3 linked regions of the Homo sapiens genome follow. The protein of the gene in region 2 interacts with the protein of the main gene of each other region in a pairwise test. Each region holds a gene or a part of one and is shown on either strand. Other genes may lie near its edges.

What was found. Proteins that work in one complex are often made in the same cells at the same time.
Region 1: the proteins of CLEC10A (region 2) and FMO3 interact in binary tests that used the Homo sapiens proteins (3 or more experiments, as listed by UniProt).
Region 3: the proteins of CLEC10A (region 2) and NAPB interact in binary tests that used the Homo sapiens proteins (3 or more experiments, as listed by UniProt).

What each region holds. Positions count from the first base shown.
Region 1 is NC_000001.11:171,086,275-171,093,921, reverse strand, and holds the start of FMO3 (flavin-containing monooxygenase 3), read right to left. Parts: upstream 3,018-7,647; 5' UTR 2,941-3,017; intron 1,270-2,940; 5' UTR 1,264-1,269; coding exon 1,132-1,263; intron 1-1,131. UniProt on the Homo sapiens protein: Essential hepatic enzyme that catalyzes the oxygenation of a wide variety of nitrogen- and sulfur-containing compounds including drugs as well as dietary compounds.
Region 2 is NC_000017.11:7,074,015-7,077,263, reverse strand, and holds the end of CLEC10A (C-type lectin domain family 10 member A), read left to right. Parts: intron 1-276; coding exon 277-372; intron 373-459; coding exon 460-531; intron 532-1,111; coding exon of another isoform or gene 1,112-1,192; coding exon 1,193-1,279; coding exon of another isoform or gene 1,280-1,288; intron 1,289-1,378; coding exon 1,379-1,533; intron 1,534-1,797; coding exon 1,798-1,904; intron 1,905-2,041; coding exon 2,042-2,210; 3' UTR 2,211-2,727; downstream 2,728-3,249. UniProt on the Homo sapiens protein: C-type lectin receptor involved in recognition of N-acetylgalactosamine (GalNAc)-terminated glycans by myeloid antigen presenting cells (APCs).
Region 3 is NC_000020.11:23,418,472-23,426,480, forward strand, and holds the start of NAPB (beta-soluble NSF attachment protein), read right to left. Parts: upstream 3,018-8,009; 5' UTR 2,932-3,017; coding exon 2,834-2,931; intron 1-2,833. UniProt on the Homo sapiens protein: Required for vesicular transport between the endoplasmic reticulum and the Golgi apparatus.

The DNA.
Region 1 (7,647 bases), on a different chromosome or scaffold from region 2:
TGGAGGCTGCAGTGAACTGAGATGGCGCCACTGCCCTCCAGCCTGGGAGACAGAGTGAGACTCCCACTCAAAAAAAAAAAAAAAAAAAAAAAAAGATATTAGTGAGTATGTGGAGAAAAGGAAACACTGTTGGTTGGAATATAAACTATAGAAAACAGTATGGAGATTTCACAAAGAATTAAAAATAGAACTACCATTTGACCCAACAATGCCCCTAGTAGATATCTATCCAAAGGAAAAGAAGTCATTATATAAAAAAAATTCCTGCACCCATATGTTTATCGCAGCACCATTCACAATAGCAAAGAAATGGAATCAACCTTGTTGTCCAATAAGGATGATTGGATAAAGAAAATGTGGTATATACATACATATATGTATATATACACACAGACGCATATACATATATATGTATGTATATATGCACACACCATGGAATACTACCCAGCGAGAATACAGAATGAAATTATGTCTTCTGCAGCAACATGGATGGGACTGGAGGCCATTATCTTAAGTGAAATAACTCAGAAACAGAAAGTGAAATACCACATATTCTCTCACTTACGATTGGGAGCTACATAATGTATACACATTGACATAGAATGTGGGAATAATAGACATTGGAGACTTGGAAGGGTAGGAGAGTGGGAGGCGGTTGAGGTATGAGAAATTACTTAATGGGTGCAATGTACATTATTTGGGTCATGGCTACACAAAAGCCCAGACTTAACTGCTATACATTATATCCATGTAATAAAACTGCACTTGTACCCCCTAAATCTGTAAAAAAAAAAAAAGATGTGAAAAGTTATTGTGTTTTAAATGAGTAAATAATTATAACTACATAAACCTAACTAATATTTACCACTAATTTTATGTCCAAGTGGCTCTTATTAATGATCTATCAAGGGAGAACTGTAATGGAGAATTTCAAAGCCCATTGTCTAATTTACTTCTGACTTGCAAGGAGGTTACTTTCCAACCTGCTCTTGACACTGTACTTAGTGGATTCCAATTCTAACAGATATGATAACTGCCATGGTAGCAGGTTTGGAAACCTGTGTGCACACAGTGTGCTCTTATACACTTCCCAACCTATTTTCCTGTCTATTACAACAACATGCTACTCACTGAAAATTTCCACAGGCCCCCAATGTCATTGCTCTTCTCAAAGCAGGTGGGCTCCAGCCCCTCTTCCAGACAGCTCCTGATGGAGGCCAAGCCACTCACACCAGCTCCAATGATGGCCACTTTCTTCCCCATGGTAACCTGTGCAAAGGCCCAGAGAACATTTCCAGTAACAACATTGCTGAAAATGTATTTACTTATTTATCTATTTATTTTGATTTCGCTCTTTGGCTTAATAAAAACTTTACTTTTTAATAAACACTGGCTGAGTATGGTAGCTCACGCCTGTAATCCCAGCACTTTGGGAGGCTGAGGTGGGAGGATCACTTGAGCCCAGGAGTTTGAAAGCAGCCTGGACAACAGAGTGAGACCCTGTCTCCACAAAACAAAACAAAAAACAAACAAAATCAGCTGGGTGTGGTGGCACATGCCTGTACTCCCAGCTACTCAGGAGGCTGAGGCGGTAGGATCACTTGAGTTCAGGAGTTCCAGGCTGCAGTGAGCCGTGATTGTACCACTGCACTCCAGCCTGGGTGACAGAGTAAGACCTTGTCTCTAGAAAACAAATTCCTTTTAGTGATCTAACTACATTTTCATTTCTCTCTAATTTCTAAAGAGAAAGTTTTCTTCTGAAAAAAAAATAAGCACTTTGTTTTTAGTCATCAGCTCTCCAAAATTAAGAGACTGATGACCCAGCATACATATTTATCTTTTTTGCTTTTGGACTTTGTCATTTACTGTCTACCAAAAAGAGTAAGCAGAAGAAATAAAGATTCGCAACTAAAACACCTGTAGACACATCCACCCACCCACCCACATACATATGCCTGTATATGGGAATGAAGAAACACATATGTATATGTATACACACACACAGTCATACACACACACACACACACACGCAATCTGTATCTTCTTTTTACTTAGATACGGATAATGAGGAACAAGGTCTGAAGATGTCTGTATTTCAGTGTGCCAGGTAGTCACCCCTTCTCCCCATCAATAATGTACTTCACCTTCTCAATTAAAAAGACAAGTAAATGGTGCATACCTATAGTCCCAGCTACTCTGGGATTATATAGTCCTGTTGAGCTGGGGTATCGCTTGAGCCCAGGAGTTTGAGGCTGCAGTGAGCTATGGTTACAGCACTGCACTGTAGCCTAGGTGACAGAGTGAGACCTTCTCTCCGGGGGGTGTTGGGGAAAGAAGTCATGTTCTTACCTAAAAACAATTTTTTCCCACTACCTTCAGCGTCCATTCCCCTCTAAGAAAATTACGTTTCCTAACTTTTTTCTGTTCCTGACACTGTCTTTAGGCTCTACCACTACTTCTTTCACTACTTTTTTTTTTCTTTTTAGACAAAATCACATAGCTATGCAGGGAAATAGACTTGGATGATTAAACATCATGATCCGTGATTCCCAGAAACAAACAAACTGCCTGAATTATATCATTCTCATTCTAGCCATATTTGGTATAAAACTACAGCATGCTCCTTCTTCATTTACCCATCCCACCCTCAACCCTTTACTATATCACCTTTTATTCTTTTTCTTTTCTTTTTTTTTTTGAGACGGAGTTTCGCTTTTATCCAGGTTGGAGTACAATGGTGTGATCTCGGCTCACTGCAACCTCTGCCTCCCAGATTCAAGTGATTCTCCTGCCTCAGCCTCCCAAGTAGCTGGGATTACAGGCATGCACCACTACGCCTGGCTAATTTTTGTATCTTTGGTAGAGATTTGGTTTCACCATGTTGGTCAGGCTGGTCTCAAGCTCCTGACCTCAGGTGATCCACCCGCCTCAGCCTCCTACCTTTTTAATTTTCCTACCCGTTCTTTGTCTTCTTTTCTTCTGTGTGTCTACGTCCTGTCCAACCGTCTGGGCAGTTTGAAAGAGAAAATGTTCTAGTGAGCCTACATATTAGGAAGATTGTTGAAAAATGGGAGGAGCTGCTCTTAAAGAGATACTCATTTATTGGTCCTTGAATGGGTGAGCACACGCCAACCCTCTGTGATGGATGGGACTGTAGGCCAGTCTCCCATGGCCACCCAGTTTCTACTTTTCCTTTGATTATGGTAAACACAAGCTGCTGGTTATACTCTTGGACCCTTGGCCTGGGAGTCAAGTAGTTTCTCCCAGGTGACTTTGCAGTTCTGTACTCCATTTTATTATGTGTTATTTGAAAGTTTACCTTGTTTTCCTTATTCCTAGTTCTTTTGTGGGTAGCTCATAGTAGTCCTCCAAATACTGTAGAAACTTAGCTACTTAATTGAGATAGCCCAATAAGGAGGATGACTTTTCTCTGCTCTCTCTTTTCATGTCCTGTCTTGGAATTTTGGGGTCAAAGGCCTGTATTTCTCAAGCTTATATTTACTTGTTTCTGAGTACAGTGTGTGGTCACAGAAAAGATCAAAATTCCACAAATTGATCTATTAGTACCAGGAACCAGGTAAAATTAGTACCAGGTAAAATTATGTTGGCAGTTAGACAAAATAAACTGCACCTAACTCCCAGTCATGAAATATAGTAGAATTTCAAAAAAAGTTTTCCTATCAACTATATTTTGATGTCACTTAGAATTATAACATCTCACTCATTTTGTCTAGTTAACTCCTTCATTAAGCAAGTGATACTTAGTGTAAACTGGTATATGTCTAATTTTGAGGAATTACCCTTCATGCCTTTTGAAGACAGTAATCTTCATCTCTGAAGTGTGAGTATGAGAGATTCCAAATCACTTCTATAGCTCTGTGGCCTTGGGCAAATCACTTAACCTTTCCAATCGTTGATTTACTCATTAATAAAATAGGGATAACTACACTATTAATTCCTGTCTGGCTATTTTTTTTTTAACAAGGATTAGAGGATTAAAGGGTATGTACACATAAATACATGTATACATAGGTACATATAAAATGTGGCATGTAGTTAAAAATGAGCAAATGTGACTTGTAGATAAAAATTAAAAACAAGTCATAGGTTCATGAAATTTTCTAGGGCTGCAATTCAGACAACATGATTTTCTCTGCTCTCATTTTACATAGAACTTCTTTTCAGTTTTTAATGCTACATAAATAGAATTAAAATAATGCAAAGAAAAGATTGTGACTACTTCAGGAAGCAATACTACTCCTATAGCCTTATTCATTTAAAGATTGGCAGGACACACCCAATTCTACCTTGGCCTCCGATGTTTTATCTCTCTAGGAGGTGAAAAGGCCACCTATTCTTTGCTGTCCTTCACAAGAATGTATCTGAAGTCGACACATTTATTAGTCCTGTCTCTCTCTAGCCTATCCTTTGCTTGCCACAGCTTTCTGCAGAGCCCCTTTTTAAATCTTCAGAATCTCAAATGCCCAGGCTCTGGTTGGGGCAGTGGGCATTCTCTACTCTGTTGTCCCCTCCAAATCACAAAACTGCTAAGAAGAAACTTTCATCCCTGGATGGTTGCTAGATTATTGTTGCTGTTGGAGGATATGAGTGGAAGACTTATATTCTGTTCTCTTGCTCTATATTTTCTTTGTATTTTAAAGAAATTTTTGTTTTCTTCTAATTGATTTGCTGGAGGCAAGGCATATATCTCTTGTGACACCTGTTGTCATGTCTGATGATGCATAACAGTTGAAAGATTTCTATAAAATGAGAGTGGCTTTTGGAGACTCAGACTTGATCATCAAAGCTATGATGGAACATTCCAAAGATGTGGATTCTTTAGGGTCCATATTCTGAAGCTAATATCTCGTAAAGAATCGAGTGAACAACAATTAGTGCAGGCAGTGCTAAATGAAGCTGACAGTCTGTTGCATCTTCTGCTACAAGTTTAAAAAGTGTCTCAAACTTTTTTAGTTTCATAGCCAGAGGAATGCTGTGTTTATTTCCAAAGATATATTTTTTCATATGTTTTTAGCTATCTTTGTCATGTATGTGTGGGCTCTAAGTCAGTGATGTAAAATTATGTAAAATGTTTTCTCTAATGGGCTTGTCAATTGTTAACTTCAATAATGATAAAAATAAAGTGTCTTCAGTTTTTCTTTAGAAAAAAGATATATGCTGTTTGATCAGGTGATTTTACTTTTGGGAATATATCTTATAAAAATACAAATATAAGCATGCTTTAACAAATTGTATAAAAAAGTTTATTTCAGTGTTGTTCAAAGTATCAAAAATGAGATAGAATGAATGCTTTTTGTTAGAGAAGTGAATAAATTATTCTGTAAATTAGAGCTAACAGATAGCTTGGAGAAATACCCCATTAAAGTACTAGAAAGGAAAAAAGCAACATGCAAAAAAGTGCTTATAATATGATCCTTATTTCAAAAATGAATGCTGATTTTTAAAAATCTGTATAAATGTGAACACAGACACACATAGACATACTCATATGATCTGTAATGGATTTTGATCAGGGAGAAAAATATGAATGTATATATAAGAAGCGGTTAGTATGCTTTACCTTTGGGGGTCATCATATGTGAGTAGATGAAAGAGCTTAGAATAAATAAAATAGGAAAACTAAATTTAAAAAATTATGATAGGGAAAAAATAAAACCAAAACATTTTAGAACTTAGGTAATAAAAGACTGTCTATTTAATCCTGGAACTAACAAGCAAGTGCAAACAATGTTTGTCTGTGATTTTTGACATTTGGTTGCACTGTTGAGAAACACTGAGTTAAAGTCAGGTCCAATGATAGGTCCAGAGTGGTTACTCCACTTGTTCCTTTACAAAGGGGCAAGGTCTCTGTTCCTCACATTGCCACTATTGCCCCAGGGGCAGGAAAACCAAGACAGCCCTGATTAAGGAAAATAAATGAAGAGCTTATCTTACAACTTTGAGTTCCCATCTGAGCCTTCTGTGGCAGCTGCTGGAGTTACAAATAACCCTAAGTTACCAGGAAAATGGTCGCCATTACCAGAGCCTTCCAGAGCAGGAGCCTTATGGAATAAGAAAGATCACTTTCATCGCTCATTAGAGAAAGAACCCTTGTGTTGGTTGCTTTGGTAATTTTGGGGCAGTAGAGGTGAGGGGACAAGATAGCCTTTTAGGCTCCATTCCATTTCTCATATTCTATCACCTGGAACTGGGTTGGTGTATAATGGCCAAAAAGACTTTCCAGGCTAGTTTTGGATGCATGAGGAATGGGGACAGTAGTTTGAGTTTCACACCAGAGAATCTGACCATTTCATTCATAGAGCCCACATATTGCACCTGAAAGTAATGGGCCAGCCAGGAACACGCAAGAACGCAAAAGAGGAAGAAAACAGAAACCCTATTGGCTGATGTTAGCCTGATACTCATGTCTGCATTGTAAAACAATAATTTTCAAAATGTACTTTCCACTTAGAATCATGTAATTTTAGAACTTGAAAGAACTTTAAGGATTAAATTTATGAACGATCTCACTATAACATTTTGGGCTAGGCAATTTTTCTTTTCTTTCTTTTTTTTTTTTTTTTTTTGAGACGGAGTCTCACTCTGTCGCCCAGGCTGGAGTGCAGTGGCGGGATCTTGGCTCACTGCAAGCTCCGCCTCCCGGGTTCACGCCATTCTCCTGCCTCAGCCTCCCAAGTAGCTGGGACTACAGGCGCCCGCCACTACGCCCGGCTAATTTTTTTGTATTTTTAGTAGAGACGGGGTTTCACCGTTTTAGCCGGGATGGTCTCGATCTCCTGACCTCTTGATCCGCCCGCCTCGGCCTCCCAAAGTGCTGGGATTACAGGCGTGAGCCACCGCGCCCGGCCTCTTTTCTTTCTTTATTTTTTGAGTTGGAGTCTTGTTCTGTCACCCAGGCTGGAGTGCCGTGGTGCGATCATGGCTGACTGCACCCTTGAACTCCTGGGCTCAAGAGATCCTCCTGCTTCTGCCTCCCAAGTAGCTGGCACTGCAGGTGAGTGCCACCATGCCTGGCAAATTTTCTTTTCTTTTTTTGTAGAGTAGAGATGGGGGCCTTGCTATGTTGCCCAGGGTGGTCTCAAACTCCTGGGCTCAGTGATCCTCCAGCTGTAGCCTCCCAAAGTGCTAATATTACAGGCTTGAGCACTATGGCAAGTCAGCCTGGGCAGGGCAATTTTTCATTGTGTGAGATCATCCTTAAGATTGCAGGGTATTTAGCTTACCTAGTATCTAAGTCAATAAATGCCAGTGAAAACTACTAGGCATAGAAAAAGAAAAGACTACCCCTATATATTTCCAGATGCCACTATGGGGAAGTATTTCTGCCATCAAGACCCACTTATAGATCAACACACCTATTTTGTTTTTAGACCTAAAAATGTGAAAGAGGTTAATTAACTAATTCAACTTGTAGTTGTAGCTGACTAGTTACAAGTCAGACACACGTGCACTGTCCAGCATGCTGAGTTGCGTGGCATATTAAATAGCCAAAATAGAAAATATGTAAAATGAAGGGCAGCTGGTTGGAACTTATAACTAAGGAGAATGCACATGATGCCTTTCATTGGCACATTAAGCTGCATTCATATACACTTTTCATTTTTTAATCTAGTAAATGAGTGTCTA
Region 2 (3,249 bases):
GATGGGGACGGTGGTGGGGGTAGTGATGGAGAGAGTTGACGGACCCATAGTCAGGATGGCTGCTGGCTTTGTCACTGAGTAGTTGGGTTATGTACTCAAATTACTTCACCTCTCTGAGGCTTAGTTTCCTCATCGGCAATATTGAACAATAATAGTGCCTGCCCCACTGGGTTGCCGTGAGGACCCAATAAGGCAATGCTTATGGAGGGCCCTGCTCGGTGCTGGTACAGAGGACCTGATGAATCCCAGCACTGACCTTCCCATCCACCTGTTTAGATTCCAAATTTCAGAGGGACCTGGTGACCCTGAGAACAGATTTTAGCAACTTCACCTCAAACACTGTGGCGGAGATCCAGGCACTGACTTCCCAGGGTGAGTCTGGTTTGGATGGGGCTCTGGGCTGGGGCCAGGCCAGGGAGGAGGAAGTTGACCCCTAAGCCAAGTCTCCGTGTCCTCCAGGCAGCAGCTTGGAAGAAACGATAGCATCTCTGAAAGCTGAGGTGGAGGGTTTCAAGCAGGAACGGCAGGCAGGTGAGAGACCCTCCGAGTATGGGTGTGGGGGGCTAGGCGCTCAGACACAGTGGAGGTGGGAACAGACTCCTGGTGCTGAACTGCCCTCCCCTTCAGCCAGCAGCTTGAAAGGCAGCATGCAGGCCGGGCGCAGTGGTTCACGCCTGTAATCCCAGCAGTTTGGGAGGCCGAGGCGGGTGGATCACGAGGTCAGGAGTTCGAGAGCAGCCTGATCGACATGGTGAAACCCCGTCTCTACTAAAAAAAATACAAAAAATAGCTGGGTGTGGTGGTGGGCGCCTGTAATCTCAGCTACTAGGGAGGCTGAGGCAGGAGAATTGCTTGAACACGGGAGGCGGAGGTAGCCGTGAGCCGAGATCGCGCCATTGCACTCCAGCCTGGGCAGCAAGAGTGAAACTCCGTCTCAAAAAAAAAAAAAAAAAAAAGAAAGAAAGAAAGAAAGGCAGCATGCTTTCTCTGGAGAGCAGGCTGGAGAAACAGGGGCAGAGGAATCCAAAGCAGATTTGATGGCTGTACCTGGCCATGATGTAGGGGGTGGGTGGGGGCGGGAAGGAACATTCCCTGGCTTGGCCCTGTGCAGGGGTATCTGAGCTCCAGGAACACACTACGCAGAAGGCACACCTAGGCCACTGTCCCCACTGCCCATCTGTGTGTGTCCCAGTTCATTCTGAAATGCTCCTGCGAGTCCAGCAGCTGGTGCAAGACCTGAAGAAACTGACCTGCCAGGTGGCTACTCTCAACAACAATGGTGAGGAAGGTATGGGGAGTACCTGGCCCTACTTTTCTGCCCATGGCCCACTGGGCAGAGCCTCAGCCTCTCCACCCTATCCTATTTCTCCCCAATCAGCCTCCACTGAAGGGACCTGCTGCCCTGTCAACTGGGTGGAGCACCAAGACAGCTGCTACTGGTTCTCTCACTCTGGGATGTCCTGGGCCGAGGCTGAGAAGTACTGCCAGCTGAAGAACGCCCACCTGGTGGTCATCAACTCCAGGGAGGAGCAGGTGAGGGCTTCTGGTACTCAGTTCCTAAGACATGTCCCATTTAGGGAAATGGTTCTTAAGCTTGGCCGCACATTGGAATCATCTGGGAGCTTCCAGAATGACTGTCATCTGTGCCACACCCTCAGAGATTTAATAGGCCTGAGCATCCAGAGAAACATCTCCAAACTCCTCAGTTGATTTAACGAAGAGCTAAAGTTGAGAATCACTAGTTTAAGGAGTTGGCTGGGATGGGAAGAAGTCACCACTGCCCTTCTGTCACCGCAGAATTTTGTCCAGAAATATCTAGGCTCCGCATACACCTGGATGGGCCTCAGTGACCCTGAAGGAGCCTGGAAGTGGGTGGATGGAACAGACTATGCGACCGGCTTCCAGTGAGTGCACCCTGGCTTTCTGTGCCAATGTCCTCCGTCAGCGTTTCCCCCAGGGATCTGACTGGCAGCCTCTCCTCCCCTGAACTGAATTCTACTCCATCTACCCTTCCTAGCTTGCTGTTGTCTTTTCCTCTCAGGAACTGGAAGCCAGGCCAGCCAGACGACTGGCAGGGGCACGGGCTGGGTGGAGGCGAGGACTGTGCTCACTTCCATCCAGACGGCAGGTGGAATGACGACGTCTGCCAGAGGCCCTACCACTGGGTCTGCGAGGCTGGCCTGGGTCAGACCAGCCAGGAGAGTCACTGAGCTGCCTTTGGTGGGACCACCCGGCCACAGAAATGGCGGTGGGAGGAGGACTCTTCTCACGACCTCCTCGCAAGACCGCTCTGGGAGAGAAATAAGCACTGGGAGATTGGAAGCACTGCTAACATTTTGAATTTTTTTCTCTTTAATTTTAAAAAGATGGTATAGTGTTCTTAAGCTTTTATTTTTTTTCCAACTTTTGAAAGTCAACTTCATGAAGGTATAATTTTTACATAATAAAAATGCACTCATTTAAAGAGTAGAGATGACTTTGACAAATATGCATGCCTAGGTGACTACCACTCCGATCGCAATAGATAACATTGCCATCGCCCCCACCAGTCCCCTCATGCCTCTGGGCAGTCCAACCACTTCCCTGTTTCCAGGCCAGTGATCTACTTCTTTTTCACTATTTATTGGCCTTGCCTCTTCTAGAGCTTCTAGAACTTCATATAAGTGAAATCATACACTCTCGTGTATATACTTCATATAAGTGAATATATACTCTCGTGAGAACTTACGTACTTTGTGTTGCTTGATTTTTGGCAATCTAAAAATGGCAGAGTGGAGAAGCCAGGTGAAGCCTTCGAAAGTCCTATGTGATTGAGAAAATAGCATTTTCTTCTCATATAGATTTGAGTTCAAATCTTTTCTGTCACTTAAAGATGGTATAAACTTAGGGTGATTAGGAAAAGCCATTGTTTAATTTCTCTGAAGATCCCAGAGTTGTTGGGAGATGTAGATAAGATCCCCAGGTGTATTGGTTAGCAATTGGTGTGTAACAAACCACCTCAAAGCTCAGGGCTTATACAGTAAGCATTTATTATAGCTCATGAGGCTATAGGTCTGGTCTGGCCAGGTTTGGGTCATCTTGGCTGGGCTTGTTTATGCGTCCGTGGTCAGCTGGTGGGTTGGCTTGGGGTTGGCTGGTCTAGGGTAGCCTTGCTCCCATGTCTCATATTTGGCTGGCTCTGGGCTGGGACAATGGGGATGACTGGGCCACATTAGCTTAGCCTGGCCTTGTTCACAGAATGGCTGGGTG
Region 3 (8,009 bases), on a different chromosome or scaffold from region 2:
TTTCTGGCTTCAGTAATTATACAATATTACTAAACTCCTAAAATTCTAAGTACTCTTCTTCCTGCAAGCTTTCCTGGAGCAAGTATTACTGGAAATAACAGTCTTCAAAGTATAAATCACACTTGCATGGTACATTAATGGTTAAAGCTCTTTCAGATATTTTATTTCATTAAAAGATCAATGAGGCTGGGCGTGCTGGCTCACGTCTGTAATCCCAGCACTTTGGGAGGCCAAGGCAGGTGGATCACGAGGTCAGGCATTCGAGACCAGCCTGGCCAACACAGTGAAACCCCGTCTCTACTAAAAATACAAAAAAAAAAAAAAAATTAGCCGGGCGTGGTGGCGGGTGGCTGTAATCCCAGCTACTCAGGAGACTGAGGCAGGAGAATCGCTTGAACCTGGGAGGCGGAGGTTGCAGTTAGTTGACATCCCGCCACTGCAATCCAGCCCGGGTGACAGTGTGAGACTCCGTCTCAAAAAAAAAAAATCAATGATGCAGTCTACGGCTCTGAAATTCTGGAAAAGTTATCTGTTTGGCCTACTGCTTCTTTGATAAATAACTGGAGCTGATAATTTTGATGAATATGCTAATTAATATCTCATGGTCACTGTCTCCAACATCCATGGTTCCAAATGTTTTATAAACATAACCTCACTGAACTCCCATAAATTTTGAGATATACTATTATTGTCTCCGTTTTATACACTGGAAACTGAAGCACAGAGAGGCTAAGTAACTTGCCCTAGGTCCCAAAGCTAGATAATAAACCAACCTGTTGTACCCAGGTAAGAACTAAGATGCATTAACTTTTGTGTAACTGAGTGTGAATGGTGAAGATTCGTCTTCTTATATGTCCTGTCAATAACATAGGTAGCAACATTTAAAAGGGAGATGTTTCTTTAAAAACAAAGGCTTTTCAAAATCCTTTAAGGATTATAAGCTCAAGATTTGGCCTAGTTTCCTAAAAACATCGAAAACCTCTTTCCCAAAAGGAGTGTTCTCCTGAGACAAGCACCAAGTGCTGTCAAGCTTTTTCCTCTGCCAGTTACAGACTCTCCCACAGGGAAGCACTTCCTGACTTGAAATAATGTTGTAACATTAAAATAACCTCCTGGCATGAGGTACTATGACATTAAATTTTATTAGAGTGAATTTTAAATGTTTTGTGAATCAAAACATTTAAAAGGAGTTAGTGTGGCGCTAGCACTTGATGGTACTGTCATAACTTTTAAATGCAAAACAAAACATAATTCATAGCTATATCTCCTACACATCACATGAGAAATTTAGAAACCAGCTGTGATAAACGTCCTCTGAGAGGTTCCTGAGGACAGGGACCCTTATCTTCTTGCATTTTTGCAGCCTTTATGCATTTCTGCAGTTATGCGTACTGCATGCAACTTGTCCTTAAGCATTTCCTAAAGACGTATCAATAGCGGTAAAGTATTATAATTTATAGCCAAAAGAATGAAGTTGGCAAAACAAGCTAAGAGCCCATTATGTCTGTCTTCTGAAATAGAGTCTGAACTGAATGTGTACAGAAATAAAATCGTGTCTAGTCATGCAATGGGTTAAGTATCTGCTCTTGGTAACAGCAAAGGATCTTTCACTTTCAAAAGAAAACAACGAAACAGGCACACACAAAATTTCTGCCTTTCTCATCCTAAACAGCTGAATCATTCACATATTCAACAGCCCAGAATTCTTCCGGGCTGTCAGTGCGGGCTCTGCTTTTTGAGAGGTTGGAATTTAAAATCCTCCTTAGGAGAGCACGGAAGAATTACAGGAAATTAAAGGGATTCCCAAAGGACGCCTGACTTAAACAGCAGCAGCGTTACCGTTAATCAAACAGGAGGCTCTGGCTATCAATCAATCTCCGGAGAAGGAAAAATACTATGCTGAGAAAATATATTCGTTCATTAGTCAAGTATTTACTAAAGGTGTACTCGGCGCAAGGCCCCTGGAGAGAGGCCAACAAGCACACCAGCTCTGGATCCCTCGCCGGACCGCCCCCTCCCCGGCGGGGCCCACCTGCAGGCGGGACGCCCCCAGGTGCGCGTTCCAGGCGCCGGGGGCGGCCCCCGCACCCACCCCTCCGGCTCCACCCCGGCGCGCCTCACCCGGACCGGTCTCAGGAGCGATACGGGCTTCAGCGTGGCGAAATGCACCAATACGACTCGCTACGCACTGAGAAGGGGGCCCCACGCGCGCCCCGAGCTACCGCGCCCGCGGGCCTCAGGGAGCCGCTGACCTTCTAGGTCGTGGGACCCCCGCACCAACCCGGGCCAGGGCGAGGGGGGCGATCTGGGGTCTCCAGAGGGCGCGTGAGGCTGACAGCCCCCCCCCCAGAGTGTTCTAGGGGCTTCGTGGGGCGCTTGGGGAGCTCTGGGGGTCCTAGGGGTTCTCTGAAAGGCGCGTGGGGGCTGAGGGTCCCTGTGAGACTCTGGGGATTCTAAGGGGGCGTGTTAGGGGATCCGGAGAGCGTGTGGGGGCTGAGGAACCCTGGGGAGTTCTGCCGGCCCTAGGGGGTCTCTAAAGTGCGCGTGGGGGCTGAGAGCCCCTGGGAGGATGCGGGGTTTCCAGGGACCCTGGGGGGGCCTGTGGGGTCTCTGGAGGGCGCGTGCGGACTGAGGGCCCCTGGGCGTCCTGGGGGCTCCAGGGGGCGCTGGGGGACCCTACAGGATTTCTGGAGGGCGCCTGCAGGCTGAGGGCCCCTAGACGTGGTCTGAGGGCCCCAGAGGTTGCGTGGGGGACTCGGGGGGTCAGCCTGAAAGGAAGGGGGCCAAGTACGGAGACCCCCCCCCCCCAGGGCACGCACGGTCTGGCGCTCACCCAAACAGCCCTCGGAGGAAGGAGTGGGAGGCCTTGACTCGCTTCTCGGCCTCCGCCATCAGCTGTACTGCCTCACGCTCCTTCCCCGCGTTGTCCATGTCGCCCGCCGCGGCCGCCACAGCCCCCTCAGCCGGCTCGCTGTGCGCCCAGGCGCCTTAACCCTCCCTCTGGCGGCCGCAGGGACGCAGGCGCAGGCGCGACGCGCGAGGCCTTTCGGGAGCTGTAGTCCGGGTCCTGTCATGGCGGCGGGGATTCGCGAGCCGCCTACTACAGTTCCCAGGAGGCCCCGGGGCGGGGTGTGTGTGAGCCGAGCTTGCGCACCGCTAGCTCCCAGGACGTCGGCGCAGGGGGCGTGACCCCCCCAAAGGGGTCCTGGGCCAAGGTGAACTTTAATTTTGTATGTATGCAGAAATGGAAAAATGATCCGTGGCCTCTAGTAAAGATCACCTCCTCAGTAAGACTCGCATGGCAATGGGATGGATGAAGGAACAGGGGATAACAGATTGGATGGAACCCACACCCTTCATGCAAGTTCTGCAAAAGAGAATCTGGTGTAGCCACCAAAGCATCACATGCTTGATACCGCCCACCAAAAAACGAGCAACAGCTGGCAATAAGAGCCATTTTTATCTCCAAGAGCAAGACGTCCCCAATATAAGTTCAGTTATTTTTAAATCTCCCCAAACTGTAACTTTCTGTTGGTCCTCTCTTCCTTGGTTATAAATGAGTTGCATATATGCAATATATGCATAATCCACTCTTTTGTTGACTGAATTATATTCAATGGATGTGAACCATTGAACTCTTATCCTTTACATAATACTGGCCATAGTGGATGGATCTCCAGGGACAAAATGTTTGCCTGCCAGGAAGACTTCTAATCTCCTAGGAGAAGTATCCATAGATAGATGGGATCCTGTGCCAGAGACTTTCAGGCCTGTCCCAGAGGGAGTTATTTTTGAAGACAATGTCTAGACCATTCAAGCTTGGCAGTGCTAAGGCAGAGATGCTGAAACTAATAAGAAAATCACTGCCAAGTGAGATTTATGACAGTTTCAAACTGTTAATAAATACACTCTGGGCACTGGCATGCAAAATTTTAGAAAATGAAGACTGTCTGTAGAGGGCAAGGCAAGAGGGGCCAAACTCCTAGAAAGAAAGTTGACTAAAGCACATGTCACAGAGTTCATACATTTCAGGACTCCGTAGAGATAGAAAGAAATCTCAGCTCTTCGTGCAGTTTATTTACGATTACTACATGCATTATTCTAACTTTGAAAAGCTGAGCTGTGTGTTTTTGGAGAGAGAAGGAGGCGGGAAATTGGAGGTGACCGTAAATGCAGGGGAGACCAGAGAAAAACTGTAAAAAGTGAACATAAGCATTTGGAAAGCAGAGCAGTCTATGGGGGCTTAATGGAGTGAGGCTAAGTCAAAAGCTCCTAAGTAAATCAGTGTGTTGATTAAATCAGTTGTTCCCTAACGTGGTTCGATGCAGAAGCTCTAATGGATATTTAAGAAATACTGATTCCTAGGCCACTGGGTTTTGGTATCAAGGTCTCTTGCAGCTGGGGTCTAGAAAATGCACATTTTGAAAAGAACTCTCCATCCCTATCCTAAAGCACACAGTTCTAGATTCTCATATCTGTAGTCAGTTGAAAAGGAGCTGGAACAGACTGCCTCCCCGAAGCTAGCACTTGCAATTAAGAGAGACATTTTTGGTGGTTTCTAGTAATTTCCTTCATTCTCTTCTTTGTCACAGGAAATTTGTGGGCACTCCCACCGTTCTGCCAGTCCACACCAAAGTGGGAGAAAACCTTCAAACCTTAATTACTGGGTAGAGCTAGTGTTTTATTCTCCCAAAGGCTGGGGGAGGAAAGGAGGCAGGGCAGAGAGATGAACCTCACAGAATAAGGCCTGACTAGAGAGACAGCTGAGGAATCCTTGAAACAAGAAGGAAAAGGAAAGGAGAAGCACCCCTGGTGTGGATCAGGAGAAGAATAGAAGTCATCTTGGAGAAGAGCCAAAGGACCCACTGCCCACACCTGCGCTGCCCAGGATGGAGCCACTCACCACTGGTGGCTATTTACATTCAAGTTAAATAATATTAAATAAAATGTAAAGTTCCATTTCTTGGCTGTACTAGCCGTATTTCAAGTGCTCAATAGCCACACATAGCCAGTGGCTACTGAAAGAGTTATAAATATAGCATCCTGGTGGATTGACTAAGTTAGACACCTGGTGGATTGACTAAGTTAGATACTTGAGGGCGGTGGCTCACGCCTGTAATCCCAGCACTTTGGGAGGCCAAGGCAAGCGGATCACTTGAGGTGAGTAGTTCAAGACCAACCTGGCCAACACAGTAAAACCCCATCTCTACCAAAAATACAAAATTTACAAAAAATACAAAAATTAGTTAGGTGTCGTGGTGCATGCCTGTAATCCCAGCTACTCAGGAGGCTGAGGCAGGAGAATCACTTGAACCTGAGAGGTGGAACAGAGGTTGCAGTGAGCCGAGATTGCACCATTACACTCCAGCCTGGGCGACAGAGTGAGTGAGACTCTGCTCAAAAAAAAAAAAAAAAGTTAGACACCCAAAAAACGACAGGTGCAAGAAGATTATTTTGACTTTTTCTTTTCTTTTTTGCATACAGAATACACACTGGACACTTTGACCTCTTGTTTCTTTCTTTCTTTTTTTTTTTTTTTTGAGACAGAGTTTCACTCTGTTGCCCAGGCCAGAGTGCAGTGGCTCACTGCAAGTTCCGCCTCCCAGGTTCACGCCATTCTCCTGCCTCAGCCTCCCAAGTAGCTGGGACTACAGGCACCCACCACCACACCCGGCTAATTTTTTGGATTTTTAGTAGAGACGGGGTTTCACTGTGTTAGCCAGCATGGTCTCGATCTCCTGACCTCGTGATCCACCAGCCTCGGCCTCCCAAAGTGCTGGGATTACAGGCGTGAGCCACCGCGCCTGGCCCCAACCTCTTGTTTATTTAAAGGCAAGAGATGAAATTCCCATATGAAAGATGTCCCTCTTATACTAGAACTAAAGCAACATTCTTATCATCAAAGACAGGAAGTTGAGGCTAAGAGAATTCTGTACAAACCCTATTAAACTAACCCTTATCTTCTTAGTCACTTTTCTATCCAATTAACTACCCTAGCCCAAGCCCCTCTGCCTCATCACATTTTCAGTTTACTATTCTTTGTCCAATTCAGTAAATAAGTAACACACTCTAACTGCCTCTTTGGGTTTTCATTTCCTTATGAGGCCTCCCATGCCATGTAAAACTTGTATCAAATACACCTGTGTGCTTTCCTGCTATTAACTTGTCTTATGTAAGTTTAATTTTCAGACTCCACCAGGAGCCTGAGATGCCCCCCTACACTACTATATGGACTGCACAGACAGAGAACAATTTTATCATTCCACAAGTCCTAGTGGATGGCACTAGCCTCTATGTGCTTTGCTTTTCAGAAGTTCTGGACACTTGTAAGAAAAGAAGAAAAAGGCTTCAGGGAGTTTCTGAGAAGGCAGAGCAGGAAAGGAGCGTAGCCTGAACAAGGCAGAGCCAACAGTACTGCTGGCTTTTCCCTGTGAGAAGATGGAGGTGGACACCTGGACACTCAGACTGAATCAGCACATACCCCGAAAGATGATCCATCAAGACAGGGCTGAAGCTACTTGAGAACCCCAATACTAAGAAAGCCAGAGTCAGAAAAGAACAGAATCGATATGGGGAAAGGGTGTAGCCATCTGTGTGTGTTCACAGAAGGGGAGAAAGCACCAGGCAAAGATCCAGTATGGAAAATTATGGGACATCACTGCTGCTTCACTGAAGCAAAGCAAGAAGGCTCACCCACATTAAAGGGGAGGGAAATGAGACGACATCTCCTGATGGGAGGGCCTCTGAGGATTTGCAGATGTTTTCACACCACGACAGCTAGGTTAGAGGGAGTCCGTGCTCACCCTGGTCCACTCTGGTTGCATTGACAAAGTTGGGAAGCTGGAGCCCCTACGCTGGCGTTGGGGGACAGCCTTCAGCTCACATGGCCCTGCATGGCATGGCCCAACGGTCCCTGCCCAGGTCTGCAGTGGCCTTCTCTGATGACATCTCAGCCTTCGTTCTGCCTGAAATGCTAAGCGTGGCTCAGAGTCATCGGACAAGGTCAAACCATCTAAAGCAGAGTGTTCTGCTTCAGAAGGCAGGGAAGGAAGAAGTCCATTTCAGGAGGCTCTTCACCCAAAATCGTTAAAGGAATGCATTAATGAAAATAAATCTTCCATCTGTGTGGATGAGGTTGTGCAATTCTAAGGACAGAATTTAATTGTTCTATTTACAGTGATTCTTTTCATTTTTCTCATAGACTAACAAAACCCAAGAACATTTGAATGGCACATTTCAGAGAAATAATTAAACAGCTTTTGTTAATCTCTAAAAAACTTTTTGAAACAACATCAGTTTAAGTGTTTGTGTGTTATGTGTGTGGGGTGACATTTCACACCCTGTGAAAACTGTTACAAGTTTCCCCAAATGTAACTTTATTAATCTTATTTAACCTTTCCTTAAAAAATTACTCTATAAAATTCAGACCAAAAAGTTAGAAAAGGTAAAATTAAATATACGCAAATATCTGTTACAGAAAACAAAAAATGGTAAATTAAGTTAAAATAAATGCTTATGAGAAAATATATATTATTGTCATTAGTAAGTGCTCTTCTTCTTCTTCTTCTTTTTTTTTTTTTTTTTTTTTTTTTTGAGACAGGGTGTCGCTCTGTTGCCCAGGCTAAAATGCACAATCAGGGGAGGAGCCAAGATGGCCGAATAGGAACAGCTCCGGTCTACAGCTCCCAGCGTGAGCGACGCAGAAGACGGGTGATTTCTGCATTTCCATCTGAGGTACCGGGTTCATCTCACTAGGGAGTGCCAGACAGTGGGCGCAGGCCAGTGTGTGTGCGCACCGTGCGCGAGCCGAAGCAGGGCGAGGCATTGCCTCACCTGGGAAGCACAAGGGGTCAGGGAGTTCCCTTTCCGAGTCAAAGAAAGGGGTGACGGACGCACCTGGAAAATCGGGTCACTCCCACCCGAATATTGCGCTTTTCAGACCGGCTTAAGAAACGGCGCACCACGAGACTATATCCCACACCTGGCTCAGAGGGTCCTACGCCCACGGA